2 linked regions of the Homo sapiens genome follow. The protein of the gene in region 2 interacts with the protein of the main gene of each other region in a pairwise test. Each region holds a gene or a part of one and is shown on either strand. Other genes may lie near its edges.

What was found.
Region 1: the proteins of SRP9 (region 2) and CDHR3 interact in binary tests that used the Homo sapiens proteins (3 or more experiments, as listed by UniProt).

Annotation. Positions count from the first base shown.
Region 1 is NC_000007.14:105,958,912-105,966,263, reverse strand, and holds the start of CDHR3 (cadherin-related family member 3 isoform 1 precursor), read right to left. Parts: upstream 3,001-7,352; 5' UTR 2,946-3,000; coding exon 2,900-2,945; intron 1-2,899. UniProt on the Homo sapiens protein: Cadherins are calcium-dependent cell adhesion proteins.
Region 2 is NC_000001.11:225,787,799-225,790,972, forward strand, and holds the end of SRP9 (signal recognition particle 9 kDa protein), read left to right. Parts: intron 1-1,441; coding exon 1,442-1,561; 3' UTR 1,562-2,666; downstream 2,667-3,174. UniProt on the Homo sapiens protein: Component of the signal recognition particle (SRP) complex, a ribonucleoprotein complex that mediates the cotranslational targeting of secretory and membrane proteins to the endoplasmic reticulum (ER).

The sequences.
Region 1 (7,352 bases), on a different chromosome or scaffold from region 2:
TTCCTTGGATGCTTCTTCAAAACATAGACAGCTTCCATGTGCAGTGGATTTAAAAATACCAAGGGTCCTTCTCTATGTCCTTCATCTTCTGGGACTCACATGTGATCCTTTGGGACTGATGGAGCCAGATGACTGCTTTGTCTCAACTCTTTCCACTGGGGCAGTTGAAAGTTTTGTCTAGTTTATATTCTTGTAGAGCCTCCCTTTGTAAGCTGTTGGTGGAATAGGCACTATAGCTTCACAAAGGGAAACTCATCTTCATAGGAGGTGGAAAGGACAGAAGTGAATTTAAATGTCAATATCAAGCAGGAAGAAGATCTAAAGCTCTACATTTGGGGTGTATCAGTAAATGTGGGGAAAAAACCATACCAGACTCAAAAAGTATAAAAATAAAAACAGCAAATATGTATTGGATATCCTCTATATATGTGGCACACAGGGACAATGAGCAATAAGATATATGAAATCTGTTATTGCAGGGCTGACATTCTAGTTGAGGAGGCAGAAATGGCCATATAACAGATGAATTACAGTATGATAGCTCATGCTACTTTTGGCTGAGCACTGAATCTGCATTAGGTGCTGGACTGAACTCTTTGCAGGCAGTCCATGTGCAGGCAAGAGGAGCTCCAGGGTGCAACAGCAGGAGCACTCCCCAGGAGCTAGGTCAATCCAGGAAGACTCCATGGGGGGGGGTGGGGCTTGAGTTGGGCCTTGAAGGAAGCATAGGAGTTAGAACACATGAAAGGAAAGAGGATACTCTATGTTACTTTATTTATTTACTTATTTTGAGATGGAGTCTCACTCTGTCGCCCAGGCTGGAGTGCAATGGCGCAATCTCAGCTCACTGCAACCTCCGCCTCCTGGGTTCAAGCGATTCTCCTGCCTCAGCCTCCTGAGTAGCTAGGATTATAGGCACCCGTCTTCATGCTCTGCTAATTTTTTACTGTATGTTACTTTATTTGAGATTATTATAGTGATGCCTGCTTCCAACAGCCTGAAGGGGTGCTGATGTGGCTGCCCCGCTAGAAGCCTCTGTAGCCCAGGTGTTGGAGTGTGAGGGTAATGACCAGGTTCTCAGACTCACAAAAGAAACAGTTTGTGTCACAGTAGCCCTTCCAAAAACAAGATTTGACCTAAGGGATTCTATTGTGTGTTTTAAATAAGAAATCTCAAGTATTTCTTGCAAACCTTTGTGATCTATCCCTTTCACACTTCTGATAAAATTCCAAATGATAGTGTTCAGTATAAGAAATTGGGTTCTTCCTAACCTCACTCTTTCCCCAGTGACAATAAAAGTCACCTCGACTCAAATGATTGTGGCCCTAAAAGCCCATATTTCTGGGGGAAATCTGAAATGTTTACTTCAAGTGACAGTCTGAACTGCTCATGGCCCACTTCACATTCACAGGTCATCCTGCCCTCTGCTGAGTTGAAAAGCCCAAGATAGAAGAGGGCTCAATATTAGGAAACCCAGTTATTTATTTATCTTATTAGCAGATCGAAGAGGAAAATTAAATGGTCATTTTCATAGATCTTGAAAAAGCGTTTGATTTAAAAATCCATTTTTATTTAGAAATAAGTACTTGAATATTCTTACATTTAGTTTTATTATATTTTTATTTAGAAATAAATACTGTAATATTCTTATATTAATAAGAATAAAAGCCACCTCCTTAACATATAAAACATTTCTCTCTCACACCAAAAGTTAACATCATGCTTAATGGGAAACAAGACAGGAATTTACACTCTTGTCATTATTTAATAATGGTCAGAATGTCCAGGCCTGGCAGTTAGATAAGAAAAAAATAGGAGCTATAGACATAGGAGAAGAAGAATATAAATGTTCATTTTTTCAAACGTGGAAAATTCATGAGAATCACCTGAAAAACCATGCCAAATAATAAGATAATTTGTTAACAGATTTCCATACATCATACAATAATCAGTTGAAAGATGTAGGGAAGAAGAGATTCCATTTACAAATGTAAAAAAAGAAAAAGTAAAAGAACTAGAAATAACCATAATAAGAATGTACCAAATCTATATGAAGGAAACCTCAAAATACTCCTAAGAAAAACAAATGAAGACTCAAACAAGTATCTAGAACCCTGTTCTTGGATTAGGAAGACTCAAGATCATAAATAATACTCACTAACATTTACTAAGCATTTACTATGTACTCAGACACTCTTCTAAGTATTTTACTACATAACTTGTCAAAGATGTAAATTATCCCTAAATTAATTTGCAAATTTAACATAAATTCAATATATTATGCATATACTACCTATTCAGAAATAAAATTTAATTTTAAAATCTCAATTTCAATAATCCAAGCTGACATTAAAAAGATCATCTAAGATTCTTGATGCCCTTGAATGAGGAAGAGAGAGTAAAATGATCACTAGCTTGAGTCTTTGACCCTTCTATCAGAAGGTGTTTTCTTTGCTCAAGAGGAAGACACCCCCTCAGTAACTCACTTTCCTCAAAGGATCACTTGTCAACCTCAAGTTGCCCTACGAGCCTCCAGAAAAGGGCCAGAATCTCCACAAAGACTCACTTGACATACTCACAAAGCTCTGCTATGAACACTATTTTCCCAACCTTAAATCTCAGGAGGACTACCAAATGCAGGCCAGTTAACCCAAGAGGGAAAGTGAAGTCTACACCAACATAGATTAGATTAGGCTCTTTAAGCATCTCTCTTTTCCAGGGCTCCTACCTGGTCCCCCAGGGCTCCCTGGAGCGGCATCACCTCATTCATTACTGCAGCTAAGCCCTCAATTGAACAAGCCTCCCAGGGGCAATTTCCTTTCTGGGGGACATTGTCATTCAATGGTATTATGCAGACCAAGTAGGCAAGCAAGGTTCCAAAGCAAAATTGAGTTCCTACCTGACATGGCACCCAGGAGAGCCAGGAGAATGATTGCTTCCTGCATACTTGATGGTCACAACTGTGCGTGCTTCCAGCACATTAGCCACAGCCTGAATCCCGTCTCACACCCAAAGTTTATTCCAGAAGCCACTCAGCTTCCCCTCCTGGTTTTGTTGCCATGCAAGAAATCAAACAGAGGCTTTGGCGGTAGCCAAGGGAGACTCCAAACACCACAGGACTGTTTGTTCTTTGATTACCTGCTTCTGTGACTGCATAGCACCCAAGAGACCAACCAGCCAGTCCTGGTCAGCTCAGAGTTTACCTTAAAAGTCCACACTCACCAAGTGTCTCAACCAAGAGCTCCAAAAGAGAAGTCAAAAGAGAAAACCGAGACACGGAGACCACACTAAGAGCTGGACGTGCGTAGTCCACCCATGATGGTCTCGGTCGCCCTGTAGCCAGGCTTGTGGTCATTTCCAGAAACAGGGGTGGGAAGTGGGAGTTTTTCTGCTGTCCTGAATCAATGAGTAGGATTCAGACTTGGGAATTAACTGGCACTCGTTCTAAAGACAAGATCTGAGAGCTGGGAGCAGACCCCTCCTCGAGGCTGACTTGAGGTGGAAGACTGCCCTCTGACTCCACCCCCCACCACCGCCCCTCCAGCCCTCGAAGAAGGCTGTGAAGGAAGGTTACTGGAGTGGTGAGGCTTCTGCCCACTGGGGAGTGATGCAGGTCTTGCCCTTCACGATGCCTTTCTGTTCCACACAGCCCTGTGCCAGGGCACAAGATGTGGCATGTGAACAAACGCGGGCTGGGGTCTAGTCTCCACTGAGAAGGAGCAACAGCAGAGCAGAGAGAGAACGGCCGAGCAGTGGCCTGTCCCCTTGACATGGTGCAGTAAGAGAAGTAGTGGGCACAGTGGAAGGCAGCTGGGCTTGGACCACCTCTCCCATTCCTCTGCCAGCTAGGGGAGGAGAGGCCAGCAGCCCAAGGCTGGGGGCAGGAATGCAGTGAAGAAGGTGGGGAGTTGAGTCAGAGCCTCCCAGTCTGGACGAGACCCCACAGGCGCTCTGAAAACTACACATGCCCCACAGGTGAACCAGCTTTTAGCACCTGCTACACGGAGGTCACCAACGAGGGATAGAGGGAGACAGTGTTATGGAACCAAACTGGGTCCACTCACCCTGTGCAGTAAAACCGGATATCCACACCGAGGTTTTTGCAGCAATAGAAAGGAAGGCATTTATTTGCAAGGGTGCCAAGCAAGAAGGGCTCAGAGAGTGAGGGGTTTGACCCAGGCTGCGCCACCTGCCAGTGTCCCCTGTGTCCCCTGCGTCCCAAACCTAGGGTGGCAAGGCTGCCCTTCCCTTCCACCACATCCAAACATTTGACAAGCCCTTTCCAGCCTCCAGGGCCTGCTGCCGGGCCCCTTCCCATGCTTGTTGCTACTGCCCTGGCTTAAGGTCCTTGCCTCTGGCCTGGGCTCTGGCCCGCAGCACATCCTACAGAAACTTAGGTTAATTTCCCCAAAGTACAATTTTGGTCATTTACTTTCCTGCTCAAAATAACAAGAACCTTTCCCTTAAGAAAAGTTGACTTTTCTTGTGTAAAGCATGAAGGAAAGGTAGTAAGATTAGGAAAGCTAGTCGATAGGTCTCTGTTCGAAGCACATAGATAGTAACAACAACAACAAAACAAAAGGGAGTGTTGCTGTGTCACCTTTGGCAATTTACCTAACCTTTCAGAATCTCAGTTCCACTCACTTCTGTAAATCAGGGAAAATAATACCTGCTACACAGTATCATCGCAAGCGATACACAAGAGAAAGAAGTGAAAGAAACTGGCCCATACTATGTGTTTTAAAAATACTTTTTTTTTTTTTTTTTTTTTTTTTGGAGACAGGATCTCACTGTCACTCTGTCTCCCAGGCTAGAGTGTAGCAGCGCGATCATAGCTCATTACAGCCTCAATCTCCTGGACTCAAGCAATCCGCCCACCTCAGCCTCTGGAGCAGCTGGGACCACAGGCGTGCACCACCACACCAGGCTAATTAAAAAAATTTTTTTTTTAGAGAGGACGTCTCCCTATGTTGCCCAAACTGGTCTCAAACTTCTGGGCTCAAGCGATTCTCCCACCTCCGCCTCCCGAAGTGTTGATATTACAGGCATGTGCCACACTATTTTTTCCTAATAGGACCCTGGCAAGGGCTGAAACATAGTAGGTACTCAATATATATTGGCCAAATAAAAAGAAAAATAAACAACAGTTGCCAAGCTACCAATTCTCACCTCTCAGTTTTTCCTGTCATGTGAGATACTGTAAATAATCCATTTCATTATGCATAATTCAAGCTGAAGCGATGGCTCAGATTAAGTTATGGAAAACGTCAGAATGATTAAACTTTTGTATTAAAGAAACTCACATCTGTTTAGTTTTCAGCCTGACTGCACAGCATTTTTCATGTTACCCTGTTTTTACCAGGAGATCGTGCCTCCCCTTCCTTTCCCTCCCTGGTTCTAGGGAGCAAAAGGGTCATCTTTTGGAATTCATTGTGGGTGTTTTCTCCTGTAATTACAGCTTCTGTTTCCAGCCCCGAGGTTGTTTCTGCCATTGCCGCGGGCTGCTGCCCATGTGTCAATTCCCATCTCCCTCCGAAAGCACCTAGTCCTAGCACCAGACACCCAACTGGGCCTGAATCGCACCAAGGCTGAATGGGACCTTGCGGTCCTTGGCTCTCCTGTCCCTGACTGCCAGCATGCTGAGCTGTCCTGGATCCACCAAGGTCTCAGCCAGATGGGATGAATGGGTTCCTCAGGCAGGGTCGGAATCTCTAGGGCAGGCACCCCTCCAGCTTCACATGAGACCCAGGAGCCTTCTCCTACATGCTGTCTGGCTCAGCAGTGATTCAGGCCCTTAAAGTATTTCAGGGGACTTCCCTGGGAACTAGCTACTGTAAGTGTCTAATTTGCTAGCAAAGGAGTTGTGTTCCAAACATTTTTTGACTTGGAACTTGGAACTCAATTACCCTTACATAATCTATAACATATAGTCATGCACCGCATAATGACAACATTTCCATCAACCATGGACTTCGTACACAATGGTGGTCCCATAGATGATAATGGAGCTGAAACATTACTATCAACTAGTGACGTTGTAGCTGTTGTAACATCATAGTGCAACATGTTACTCATGTGTCTGGGGAGATACTGGTGGAACAAACCTACTGCACTGATAGTTATGCAAAAGTCTAGCGCATACGGTTATGTACAGTACATAATACTTATAATGATAATAAATGTATGCTGTCATTTTAGAGTATACTCCTACTTATTTAAAAAAATAAAGCTGGACAGGCACCGTGGCTCACGCCTGTAATCCCAGCACTTTGGGAGGCTGAGGCGGGTGGATCACAAGATCAGGAGTTCAAGACCCACCTGGCCAACATGGTGAAACCCCGTCTCTACTAAAAATATAAGTTAGCTGGGCATGGTGGTGAGCACCTGTAGTCCCAGCTACTTGGGAGGCTGAGGCAGGAGAATCTCTTGAACTAGGGAGGCAGAGGTTGTAGTGAGCCGAGATCGCGCCATTGCACTCTAGCCTTGGTGACAGAGTGAGACTCCATCTCAAAAAAAAAAAAAAAAAAAAAAAAAAAAGCTAATTGTAGAACAGCCTCTGGCAGGCCCTTAGGAGGTATCCAGAGGAAGGCATTGTTATCATAGAAGATGGCAGCTCCATGTGTGTTATTGCCCCTGAAGACCTTCCAGTGGGACAAGATGTGGAGGTGGAAGACATGACATTGATGATCCTGACCCTGTGCAGGTCTAGACTAATGTGTGTGTTTGTGTCTTCATTTTTAACAAAAAAGGTTTGCAAGTTAAAAAAAAATAGAAAAATAGTATAGATTAAGGCTATAAAGAAAGAAAATATTTTTGTACAGCTGTGCAATGTATTTTAAGCTGTTATTACAACAGAGTCAAAAGTTTTAAAAATATAAAAGTTTGTAAAAATGTTACAGTAAGATAAGGTTAATTTATTATTGAAGAAAGAAAAATTGAAAAATAAATGGAGTGGACTAAGTTTACAAACTCTACAGTAGTGTACAGTAATGTCCTAGGCCTTACATTCACTCACCACTCACTCACTCACCTACAGCAACTTCCAGTCCTGCAAGCTCCATTCATGTTAAGTGTCCTATAGAGGTGTACCATTTTAAAAAATCATTTATGCAGTTTTTTGTTGTTGTTTTTTTTTTTTGACGGAGTCTCGCACTGTCACCTGGACTGGAGTGCAATGGCACGATCTCAGCTCACTGCAACCTCCGCCTCCTGGGTTCAAGCTATTCTCCTGCCTCAGCCTCCCAAGTAGCTGGGATTACAGGCACCCGCCACCATGTCCAGCTAGTTTTTTGTATTTTTAGTAGAGAGGGGATTTCACTATGTTGGCCAGGCTGGTCTCAAACTCCTGACCT
Region 2 (3,174 bases):
ATTTTGATGATGAAGATTAATATGGCCTTTTTACAAGATTGCCGCACAAATTTGTACAATGCGTGGATAAAAATTTTTTTAAGTGAGTTGTTTAAAAGGCTCACTTAAAAAAATCAGTTGGGCATGATGAGGTTGAACTTCAAGTTATTTAAGTTGTTGACTTTTATTATAGGATCATTAGTTCCTGTTGTTTAAAACTCATGTGAACCTTTAAGATGGGCTGAAGAAAAGTGGATCTGTACTACAAAATGAGGAAAGGGCTGCCAGCTTAAAGTTGCTGTTTTTGAAGATTCTACAACAGATGGCTTTATGACCAACCATAAGCAGATCTTAAGTATCTAGTGAAGAATTTAACTGCTAACAAGGAAGAATTTGGTTTGATTTAAAAGTAATATCTTCAAGCCTGGGCAACATGGAGAAACCCCGTCTCTACTAAAAATAGAAAAATTAGCTAGGTGTGGTTGTGTGTGCCTGTAGTCCCAGCTACTCAGGAAGCTGAGGATCGCTTGAGCCCAGGACGCAGGTTGCAGTGAGCTGAGATTGCACCACTACACCCCCAACCTGGGCCACAGAGTGAGACACTGTCTCAAAAATACATACCTTCAGCAAATCAAGATTTTTTTTTTTTTTTTTTTTGAGACGGAATCTCACTCTGTCGCCCAGGCTGGAGTGCAGTGGCATGATCTTGGCTCACTGCAGCCCTCACTCCTGGGTTCAAGCGATTCTCCTGCCTCAGCCTCCTAAGTAGCTGGGATTACAGGCACACGCCACCACGCCCAGCTAATTTTTGTATTTTTAGTAGAGACGGGGTTTCACCATATTGGCCAGGCTGGTTTCGAACTGCTGACCTGGTGGTCCGCCTGCCTCGGCCTCCCAGAGTGCTGGGATTACAGGCGTAAGCCACCACGCCTGGCCAAGAAAATCAAGATTTACCTGGTTTATGTGTTGACCAGCTATACACAGAGAATTCTAGATTTTTTTCTAAAAATTATTATCAAACCCCCAATTTCACCAGTAGAAAAAGAGATCTTAAGATTTCTGTGTTTTTTTTTCCAGCATAACTCAGTTACTTATGGCTGGGAGAAAATATGTAGGGAGATAATCTAATACCTAATTCGAAGGAAGAAAATATCTAATTCTAAGTCTTGAGTTCTTCTCATCAGACCATAGCAGGATTTAACATTTAACATTTTTCAGAAGCTTCTAATAGACTTCATTCAGTTTTTTGTCCACAGCAGTGGCATTTAAATTACTGTACTTTAAGACATGGAATTGCTGGAGGCTTGGAAACTTGAGTGCAATTTCCCTAGTACGACCTCCAAGGAGAATAGAGCAAAACAGTGGTAGGAAAAACTCTCAAAATTTTACCCAATTGTATGTTTTCTACATTGTCAGTATCTAGTTTTATATAGTTAATATGTACTTCTAAAATTTCTGACAGTGTTTGGTGTATAAAACAGACCAAGCTCAAGATGTAAAGAAGATTGAGAAATTCCACAGTCAACTAATGCGACTTATGGTAGCCAAGGAAGCCCGCAATGTTACCATGGAAACTGAGTGAATGGTTTGAAATGAAGACTTTGTCGTGTACTTAGGAAGTAAATATCTTTTGAATTAGAGAAAGTGTTGGGACAGAAAGTACTTTATGTAACTAAGTGGGCTGTTCAGAAGCTTAGAGGTCATTTTTTGTAATTTTCTTTTTAATTACTTTAGAGAGCTAGGGATGCAAATGTTTTCAGTTAGAAAGCCTTTATTTACTTTTGGAAATTGAACAAGAAATGCATCTGTCTTAGAAACTGGAGATTATTTGATGTTAGGTAAAACATGTAATTGTTTCTCTGGCAAATTTGTATCAGTAATTTGAAAATGAGATATTAGGAAAAACCAATTCTTCTTAAATTTAGTTCATCTTTCTTTAAAAGAACATTAAATGTAACCATTTTGTCAGATCCATGTATTTTGGAGCATAAAATGTATGCTGTTGTGACCAATAAATATAAAATATGGTAATTGGAATTAACTCCACACCATAGTATGCATTGTTATACATACTGTGTACCTAATTATGTATAGCAGTGTAGTCTCAATTATATCTGAAAGTAATTGTGACTAACAAGTATGCTTTGCCTTATTTCCACATTTAAACTACCTGTTAATATAAGGGATTTGTAGTATCAGCTTGTTGAGCAATGACTTTGAATCTAGTTTTCAGTGATCAGAAGCAGCAGTTATTTGAGTGTATGAATGGAATGATGATCACTGTGCTATAATGTACTGAAACCACCATATTACAGAAATATTTACTACATATTTTCCATCTGTAGTTTCTCAGAAGGGCTATGGATTAGTTTGAACTGTCAAATCCTTGCATACTTCTGTGACACCCCTGCCCATTTTCTGTCTTTAATTAACCAAGGTGTTAGGTGTGACTGTCACAACTGTTATGTTTTCCAGTAAACTAGAAGTACGATATTTGATAATTATATTTGTATTTCACCACCTAAATGTAATGTTGATTCCTCAAGAATGAAATGAAGGCACTACATTGAAATATGTTTTGTATAAATTTGTCATGTTGAACAGCATTTTAGCATGGTAAGTTCCCTTAGCTATATGAATTTTGGCATGTTTCAGAGAGATCAGTAAATAAAATATTAGATAAAATATATATTGTTTGTGTTGAAGTTTTTAACTTTTCAGAAATTGTTGATTTCTGAGCTGGGATATACTATATTCATTTAGTCCAAAATGAGCCTAGTAATGCTGAAAGCAAATTTTTTGTTTCTCAGTACTTTATATTATATGACTTTCTCTGCACTATATGTTAATAGCAAGTTTGTTTTCTTGAATTAGAAAAGTAACATCAAATAGTATAGGATTATTTTGGCTTTTTGTTTTTTTTTCCCCCAGAATTAATGGGATCACCATCAGGGGAGGGGAGAGGCTTGACCTTTTTCCCCCTTATTTAACACTACAGAGATGACCTGAAAAGGAGAGACTGGCATTTGGGTTCTTTGAGTCCTGGTAGCGTGTAACAGAGTGGTTAAGAACAGACATTCCAAGTCAGACTGCCTGGCTTTAAATCCTGGCTCCACTATTTCCTAACTCTGTGGTCTTAGACTAGATACTTTTCTAAGCCTTCATTTTCATCTCTGGAAATGGGGCCAACAATAG